3 linked regions of the Homo sapiens genome follow. Changing the gene in region 1 together with any one later gene gives a genetic interaction. Each region holds a gene or a part of one and is shown in the gene's direction. Other genes may lie near its edges.

Evidence for each region. Genes that interact genetically often act in the same process or in processes that back each other up.
Region 2: changes in DHX37 (region 1) and BDP1 together harm fitness less than expected from each alone (positive genetic interaction), as found in Homo sapiens cells (one large-scale study listed by BioGRID).
Region 3: changes in DHX37 (region 1) and XRN2 together harm fitness more than expected from each alone (negative genetic interaction), as found in Homo sapiens cells (one large-scale study listed by BioGRID).

The regions. Positions count from the first base shown.
Region 1 is NC_000012.12:124,982,632-124,986,131, reverse strand, and holds part of DHX37 (probable ATP-dependent RNA helicase DHX37), read left to right. Parts: coding exon 1-36; intron 37-3,500. UniProt on the Homo sapiens protein: ATP-binding RNA helicase that plays a role in maturation of the small ribosomal subunit in ribosome biogenesis. Required for the release of the U3 snoRNP from pre-ribosomal particles.
Region 2 is NC_000005.10:71,563,651-71,565,985, forward strand, and holds part of BDP1 (transcription factor TFIIIB component B'' homolog), read left to right. Parts: exon of another isoform or gene 1-1,103; coding exon 1,104-1,235; 3' UTR 1,236-2,335. UniProt on the Homo sapiens protein: General activator of RNA polymerase III transcription. Requires for transcription from all three types of polymerase III promoters. Requires for transcription of genes with internal promoter elements and with promoter elements upstream of the initiation site.
Region 3 is NC_000020.11:21,383,331-21,386,827, forward strand, and holds part of XRN2 (5'-3' exoribonuclease 2), read left to right. Parts: intron 1-3,497. UniProt on the Homo sapiens protein: Possesses 5'->3' exoribonuclease activity. May promote the termination of transcription by RNA polymerase II.

The DNA.
Region 1 (3,500 bases):
CAGAAAATCTTAGAACAGAAGGAGAAAAAGAGCCAGGTACACCCCACTCGGGCAGGGTCTGCAAGTGGCTCTCCAGCATAGAGAGAGATGGGGGGTCTCTCTCCTCCTGAGGGTGTCTCTGTGGTGCAACTAATAGAACTTTCTGGAATGAGGAAAATTCCAGTGCATGGTCCAGTGCGGTAGCCACTAACCACATATTGCTGTTGAGCACTTGAAATGCAGCTACTATGGCAGAGGAACTGAACTGAACTGTTCCGGAGAATGTCAAACTTTTTTCCTTGTTTTTTCTTCTTTTTTTTTTTTTAATTTAAATTTAATTTTTTTTTCTTTTTTGTTTTGTTCCCCCACCCCCGACATCTTTTCTGGCTCTACCAAACCTTAAAAAAATTTTTTTTTTTTGAGATGGAGTCTTGCTCTGTTGCCCAGGCTGGAGTGCAGTGAAATGATCTTGGGTTCTCCTGGTATCAAGTGATTCTCCTGCCTCAGCCTCCTGTGTAGCTGGGATTACAGGCGCGTGCCACCACGTCAGGCTATTTTTTTTTTTTTTTTTTGTATTTTTAGTAGAGGCGGGGTTTCATCATGTTAGCCAGGATGATCTTGATATCCTGACCTCGTGATCCGCCCGCCTCGGCCTCCCAAAGTGCTGGGATTACAGGCGTGAACCACCATGCCCAGCCAACCTTAATTTTTTCATAGAGGAAAAAAGTTTGTCATGGGAAATTCAAACATTTGCAAGGGAAATTCAAACATTTGCAAGAGTAAAGAGAACAGTATGATGAACTCCCATGTGCCCATCGCCAGCTCCAACATTGATCAGCCCCTGGTCAATCTTGGATTATCTCCACTGCTGGTCACTTTCCCACCTCTGGGTCATTTTGAAGCAAATCCCACATACAGTGAATCTGTACTAGTTTCCTGGGGATGTCATACAAATGACCACAAACTGAGGGGCTTAGGACAATAGAAATTTGTTCCTTCCCAGCTTAGGAGGCCAGAAGTCCGAGATCAAGGTATTGGCAGGGCGGTGCTCCTCACTGGGCTCAGGGGAGGGTCATTCCTGGCCTCTTCCTGCTCCTGGCGGCTCCAGGCGTTCCCTTGGCTTGTGGCTGCGTCACTCCAATCTCTGCCTCCCTCTTCCCTCGGCCTTTCCTCCGTGTGTCTCTTCGAAGGGCGCTTCTCATTGGATTTAGGTCGCGCTCAGATACTCAGGATCATCTCATCTTGAGATCCTTCACGTAATTACGTAATTACATCTACAAAACCTTTTTCCAAATAGGGTCACGTTCGCAAGTTCTGGGATACGAACACGTCTTTGAGGGAGGCTGCCATTTAACCCACTATACATAGCATTATATCCATAAATATTTCAATTTGTATCTCTATAAGTAGAGACTTTTAAAAATGACCAGAATACCATTAGCACACCTAATCTTTTATTTTAATATCAAACATCTAGCAAGTGGTTAAATTTCCTGTTGTTTCATGGATACTCCTCACCCTTTTCTTGTTTTTTTTTCCCATTGTAGTTTATTTGTTGTTTGTCTTACAGTTTCCTACCTTCTGGATTTTTAAATTTTTATTTTATTTTATTATTTTTTGAGATGGAGTTTTGCTCTTGTTGCCCAGGCTGGAGTGCAATGGCATGATCTCGGCGCACCGCAACCTCCACCTCCCGGGTTCAAGTGATTCTCCTGCCTCAGCCTCCCGAGTAGCTGGGATTACAGGCATGCACCACCACGTCCGGCTAACTTTGTTATTTTTAATAGAGACAGGGTTTCTCCATGTTGGTCAGGCTGGTCTTGAACTCCCAACCTGAAGTGACCCACCTGCCTCGGCCTCCCCGAGTGCAGGGATTATAGGCGTGAGCCACTGCGCCCAGCCTTAAAATTTTATTTTAAACATGCTCCTCTGCCATCTGAGCTTTTTGTACATTAGTATTTGGATCTGTAGCAGTGACTGTCATCCGGAACAGTTTTGCGCGCCGCCCCCCGCTGCCCCAGGGACATTTGGCAGTGTCTTGAGACATTTTGGGCTGTGACAACTTGGGAGTGCTGCTGGCATCTGGCGGGTGGAGCCATGGGATGCTGTTAACAGCCTATAATGCACAGAAAAACAAAAACTTATTTGGCCCTAAATGTCAATAGTGCTGAGATTGAGGAACCCTGACCTGGAGCCTTCATGAGAATCAAGTTTGACTTTTGGTGAGGCCACTGCACGTGGGAGCTGTGTCTTCACATCAGGAGGCTTGAGGGTCTCTCTCCAGCAGCCGTGGATGGGCAGTCCCCAGAGCCTTGGTAGGGGGAAGACTTACTCACCTGTGAGCGTGTTCTTTTTTTTTTTTTTTTTGGAGACAAGGTCTTGCTCTGTTGCCCAGGCTGGAGTGCAGTGGTATGATCTCAGCTCACTGCAACCTCTGCCTCCCAGGTTCAAGCCATTGTCCTGCCTCAGCCTCCCGGGTAGCTGGTACCACAAGCATGCGCCACCATGCCCGGCTAATTTTTGTATTTTTAGTAGAGACATGGTTTCACCATGTTGGTTAGGTTGGTCTTGAACTCCTGACCTCAGGTGATCCACCCGCCTCGGCCTCCTAAAGTGCTGAGATTGCAGGCGTGAGCCACTGTGCCTGGTCAGTGTGTCCTTTTTAAATCCTATTTAGGGTGCTTTCCCGCTGTGCTATACCTTGTTCTGTGTGTGTGTGTGTGTGTGTGTGTGTAATACACACATAGAAGTGTGTAGGCTGGGCGCGGTGGCTCACGCTTGTAATCCCAGAACTTTGGGAGGCCGAGGCGGGCAGATCATGAGGTCAGGAGATCGAGACCACGGTGAAACCCCGTCTCTACTAAAAATACAAAAAATTAGCCAGGCATGGTGGCGGGCGCCTGTAGTCCCAGCTACTTGGAGAGGCTGAGGCAGGAGAATGGCGTGAACCCAGGAGGCAGAGCTTGCAGTGAGCCAAGATCGCACCACTGCACTCCAGCCTGGGTGACAGAGCGACACTCTGTCTCAAAAGAAGTGTGTATAAAACCTATATGTACAGTTACAAGAACAATAAAGTAAAAACTCACGAAACCCTCACCCAACTAAAAGAAGCCAACTGGGTACACCCCCTGCACACAGCATTGCTCAGGGTAGCTCGGGGACCAATTCACATCAGACACACAAAGCCGCCTCCTTCCTCAGAGCAGCTAGGGAGCACTGCTGTACATGACTGAACTGTGCTTTATTCATCTCCTGTTGATGGACATCTGGTGGGCCATAATCTTCTACTGTGATACCCTGCTGCAGAGAACCTCATTTATACAACCCCAGATTCTGTAAAAGGGGTTAAAAAAGCCAGCTTGCTGTGTCTGTTGATGGAAGAACACCATGCACCAGTAGAATTGCAATTTGACCGCCGATTTTAAAGACTCCAGGTGTTAATGATGCTGAAATTTTATTACAGTCTCACTTCCCTTCTTAAGAGAGGGTCGTGATGGCAAATGCATAATACACTCGTTTCC
Region 2 (2,335 bases), on another chromosome or scaffold:
GCCTGTAATCCCAGCACTTTGGGAGGCCAAGGCGGGCAGATCACCTGAGGTGAGGAGTTTGAGACCAGCCTGGCCAACATGGCAAAACCCCATCTCTACCAAAATACAAAATTTAATCAGGCACGGTGGTGTGTGCCTGTAGTCCCAGCTACTTGGGAGGCTGAGATAAGAGAATTGCTTGAACCCGGGAGGTGGAGGTTGCAGTGGGCTGAGATCATGCCATTGCATTCCAGCCTGGCTTTGTCTTAAAATAAATAAATAAATAAAAAGGTACCCTTCCCCACCTACCTCCGTCCAGAATTATAAAAGTGTTTTTCCATGGCATTTTTATAGTAGAGTTTTTTAAAAAATACTTTTACATTTAAATCTTTTGATCCATCTAGAATTTGTTTTGGTAAGGTATTGGTCTGACTTTTTTCCCCCTGAGATGGTTATATAGTTGTCCAACATCATTTATTTAATAATACAATAACTGTTTTTGATATGGCACTTTTATCAGATGCTAAATTTCTATATATATTGGGGTTATTTCTAGTCTTCTGTTTCATTGATATATCTGTCATTCGTGTGCCAATACCATGCTGTCTTAATTTGTTTATAGATTTGTAAGTATGCTAATTTCTGATAAGGTATCTTTGATATGTTTTCTTTAGGTGCTGTTTTGTCATGGGTCTGTCTATTATGCAAATAATTAAAGTATTTTTACTTTATTTAGTGACAGATTTAACCATATTATATTTTTCTTTATTAAAATTTTTCATGGAAATTAGGATGAAGTAATGGATTATGGGTACACTGTAATTTACCTAATTATATCTAGTGTGGTATATTTAGTTGCTTCCTATTTTATTATTATAACTAATGCTACAAAGGTTATCTTAGTCATAAAACTCCTACTATGTTTAGGATTATTTACTTAATGTAACAGCATAGAAGTGAAATTTTTGGGTCAGTGATTGTGAACATATTTAAAGCTCAATATTTATTGCCACGTTGCTTTTCAAACAGATCATATTGGTTTAGACTGCTATATATACACACACATATATATATAAATGTTGTATTACAGTTTTATTTTTACTTTATTTTTATTACCTTTTTAGGTTTCTTGTGATCAGCCCTTACTGAAAGAAGGATATAAAAGTGCCCAAAAGCGGGCCCCTCAAGGGGAGGCAACCACAGTCTCTGAATATTTCTTCAATGATATCTTCATTGAAGTGGATGAAACAGAATAAAACAATCTTTTCTCTTTTTCTTTTTTAAATTAGGTCTAGGATTTCCAGAGTCAATTACATCAACAAAACAGTATTTAGAGCAAAATATCACTGTCTTATTTTTCTTTAGGTTGATTTTGAATACTTAATGAGCTTGATTTGAAGCTTTTATAATCAGTGGAAAACATTTCTGAGGTTCCTTTCATTCTGACTGATTCAGCATTTTGCAAATAGCAAGCAATTAAGACTGCTTTCTCAGACAGAAATAACAACTCTTGTTTACATTTTGACTCTTCCTGTGCTAAGCACACATGGACATTTGGGAATGTTGTGGATATATGTCTCTGTATGAATTGCAGTGCAGACAGATTTGGGGGTTAATTGTATCATATTTAACATTTAGCAACTTCTTTTGTGAAGATTTTTTATTTTTAGGGGGAGATGATGAAGGATGAAGGCTTTTTCATTTGCTTCTAAGTACAGTCATGTATCACATAATGAAGTTTAAGTCAATGATGGACCACATATATTACAGTGGTCCCATGCAATTAAAATGGAGATAAATTCCTATCAACTAGTGACATTATAGCCATCATAACACAGTGCATTGCTTTTTTATGTTTAGATATGTTTAGATACACAAATACTTACTATTGTGTTACAACTGCCTACAGTATTCAGCATAGTAACACATTGTAGAGGTTTGTAGCCGAGGAGCAATAGGCTATACCACATAGCCTCAGTCTGTACGGTGTGTAGCAGCCTGTACCATCTCAGTGTTTGTAAGTACACTCTGCGTTGTTTCACACAAGATCACCTAACAAGGCAATTCTTAGAACATGTAGTTAAGGGACACGTGACTATATGTGAAAACAAATTGTCAAACTTCACTTTAGTATGGCAAATGTTAAAGAACTTTTCTATTATCAGCTGTTTGTCTGACTGAAAAATACATATTTTTCTAATTCATGGTGATGTAACATTAGTCCTAATTGAAAAACTAGTATTTAAACATAATTATTTATAAAGATGACACATCAAAGGGCTTATTTATTTTTAAATTTTTTATTTAAAAGGATATTCAGTTTTAGCTATTTTTACCCCTCAGATTGTAGATAAAG
Region 3 (3,497 bases), on another chromosome or scaffold:
TCTTATTGCTCACTTTCCATACTAATAATAATGGCAAATGTTTGTCTGCTTACAAAGTGTTAACACTGTGTTAACATCCTTTAATAAGAATGATTTCATTTATTCCTCCTAGCAGTGCATTGAAATAGATGCTGTTATGTTTACATTTTTGCAAATGAAGAAAGTGAGGCACAGAGAAGTTCAGCAGCTTACCTAAGGTCACTCTTTTGTGCCATTCTTTACCAAGAAACTTTTCACTGGAACAAAACTTACCAGAATATTTACTCTGAGCGTAATATAAAGACGTAGGGACTTCAAAGGAAGTAAAGGATCTGTTTCCACTTCTAAGGCCCCAACAGCTTTCCTCCCCTCTGTTCACATTAAAAGTTTTCCTAAGATCATCATCATTGTCCCTTCCCTTACCCTGCTGTCCATCAGGTTTTGTTCTTATTCTACCCTAGCCAAGTACTAGTATTATTCTGACTTTGTGAACCCAGCAGGTTAGTGACAAGTTTTGTGGGAATGTTTTTTGGTTTAGTTTTAGTCAGATACTTAAAATTATGCCTGAAAGCAAAAGGTAAATGTGAGCATAATAGAGTTCTATCATAAAAGTCTTACATCACAGACATTTAAGAAAGATACCATTTTGTTCCAGAACCAGGTTTTACCAGTTCTTAGTTCAGTATGTTTCCACGACGCTACTGTTTGTTGAGAATCCTATTAAGAGAATTTTGAGTGTCTTTTTTTTATTACATTGCATTTCTTGAATAATTTCCTACTTTAAGATGGTATGTATAATCCATATATCCAGTAGATTTAAAAATACAACAGGAACATCCTCCCAACACAGACACAGCCTAGAGTTAATAGATACCCAGCATTGGAGTTCCCTTTGTCACTTGAGTTTTGCCACATTGTTTGGGTTCTTCTTGTCAATGGAGGCCTCTTTTTCAGTCATTTGCAAGGCAGCCATTTAGTTTTTTACCTATGAGTGTTAAGCTCAATCATGAAAAATCTTTTAAATAAAACTCCGATTTTACCATATGCATACATTTAAAATATTCAAATTGGTAGTAGTTCACATCTCCAGTAACTTTCCAAAACAATTTGGAAACTTAAAAAAATTGTTGCTATCTACGATGCCAAATGGCTCAAATAAGTTGCCTTATTTATTAACTTCTTTTATTGATTTATTGATTGAGACAAGGTCTCACTCTGTCACCCAGGCTGGAGTGTAATGTCATGATCTTGGCTCACTGCAGCTTCTGCCATCCAGGTTCAAGTGATTCTGATGCTTCAGCCTTCCAAGTAGCTGGGACTACAGGCTCCCACACCACCATGCCTGGCTGATTTTTGTATTTTTAGTAGAGACGGGGTTTTCCCATGTTGCCTAGGCTGGTCTCAAACTCCTGGGCTGAAGTGATCTGCCTGCCTCGGCCTCCTGGAGTGCCGGGATTACAGGCTGAGTTACTGTGCCTGGCCTAATTGCTAATTTTTAGAATTTAGGATATGTCAGTTTCTGTGCTTCTATCCCAGATTTTAAAACATAATTTCCTAGGCAAATTTTTAGTTTTGTAAGTATTTGCAAAATATATAATTAGTCTAGACATGTGATAAACTTGTTGAAAATAAAGGCCTTTCTGTCATAAAAGTCAGAAGAAGGTAGTACATGACATCCTTGCTTTGTTCTTCTGTTTAATTTTAATTATTGATGATTTTTTTCATAAAAATTATATTTGTCAAAAACATTATAAGTAATCAATTCAAACAAAAAGAACTTTGCGTTTTTAAACTGTGGCTTTGTTCTTAACCTGTTTTTGGAACATAAAATAGTTTTGAATTGCATTTATAATGTATATTATTTATGCCAGCAGATCTTCCTAAAACTCAATTGAATTTTATTATTGTAAGACTCAAAAGAAAAACTGATCACAGTTAAGATGTGAATTGTGTTTTTAGCCCGTGGGTTTTGCATTAATTGGCCCAGTTTTGATGAGACTTTGGTTACAGCACAAACCTTAGTTTAGCCCTTCACTCCTGCAGAGACTGGAAGAGACCATTCCTATCTCTGCACACGGAGCTCTTCTTGCTAAAACAGATGGAGGCATTCTTGCTAAAATATATTTGTGCTAGTAATTGTCCTGAAAAATAATTAAAAGCCCTAGCCATATGCATTTTCTTTCTGAGATAAAAACTTATTTTTAATTGTATTCTGAATTACTTATAACACATTGTTATTAGAGCTCTGGTTTCAGCTACCAACTGTAAAGAAAAACTTTAGCCTTTCTAGAGTTCTTTAGAGAGCAGTTCATTTCTTCGAATCATCACACAAAAATAATTATCTCTGGTGTTGTTTTAATAAAAAGAAGGCAAGCTCCAAGTGAAGGGAGGAGAGTGGGGGTAGAGAGGATGGATTCAGGCTTGAATAGCTGTGAGAAGAATGCTTTACCCAATGAGCCCAGCGCCGGGCTTTTTTCCCCTAAGACCTCGGAAGTGAAATTCTTATGCTGATATGGTTATAACTGATTACCAGCTAGTCAGCACTTCAGTGAATTTAAAGTTTTATTGAATTCCTCCTAACATGGTCAGTGGCCCCAAAGCTTCTGATGTTCAAGTATACTGGAGCATTTGCCTCTGTTTATTCTTTGTAGTGCCTTCCATAAAATAGAAGTTATGGAAAGTGCCTTAAGGAGAAAGTAAAGTCTTAAATGGTGATTGCCTTTAGAAGGTATATCCTTGCTACATTGTTTATGTGACAGTTTTTAATTAAGTTATGATTTAGTACATTATACCTGTTGCTTTGCATCTGCAAAGTTAAAATAGTCACTTGAAGACAATTAAAACATTTCTTTCGACTAGTAATCTGCGACAGCAAACTGGGTTATAATAGCCGTTGAATCTGTGTTCCCATGTAAACTGTACACCAAATGCCAGTCAGCCCATGCCAATTAGTGCTCATGTTGCTAGGTCACCGTGGTCAATTGAAAGCTGCATCAATAGAACTTGAAAAGGTTTCCTCCCAATCAGACCTTCTGACATATTGAACAGAATAATGGATGGGAAAAAACAGCCAAGTCTCCTACCCTGGATTCAAAATACTCAGCAGTAAGAATTCATTTGCAACCTGCAATTAAGTAGAAAGAATGGATCCAAGAACGAGTCTGGACATTTTTGAAAATAAAGCCTCATTCTCCTGTCTTGTACATGTTTACTCTTTGGATAGCATCTTAAATGTAGCCATCTTGGTGATCTTGGGTCTACATCTTTAAGTGACTAAAAAGGAAATTTCCCAATTGAAAATGAACAAAATAACTTTTAAAAGTCAGAACTTCTCAGTTGAGTTTAAACATCCATTGTAATAAATGCTGATGCTTCATGAAACATGTTAGATTATACTGGATATAAGGGACACAAAGGCCATTCTGATACTCTGTATCCCATATGATAAATCCAGGTAAATTGGATTGTACTAAAATTTGGAGATGATACCTGCCGATTTTAGGCTTTGTGCTGTATAA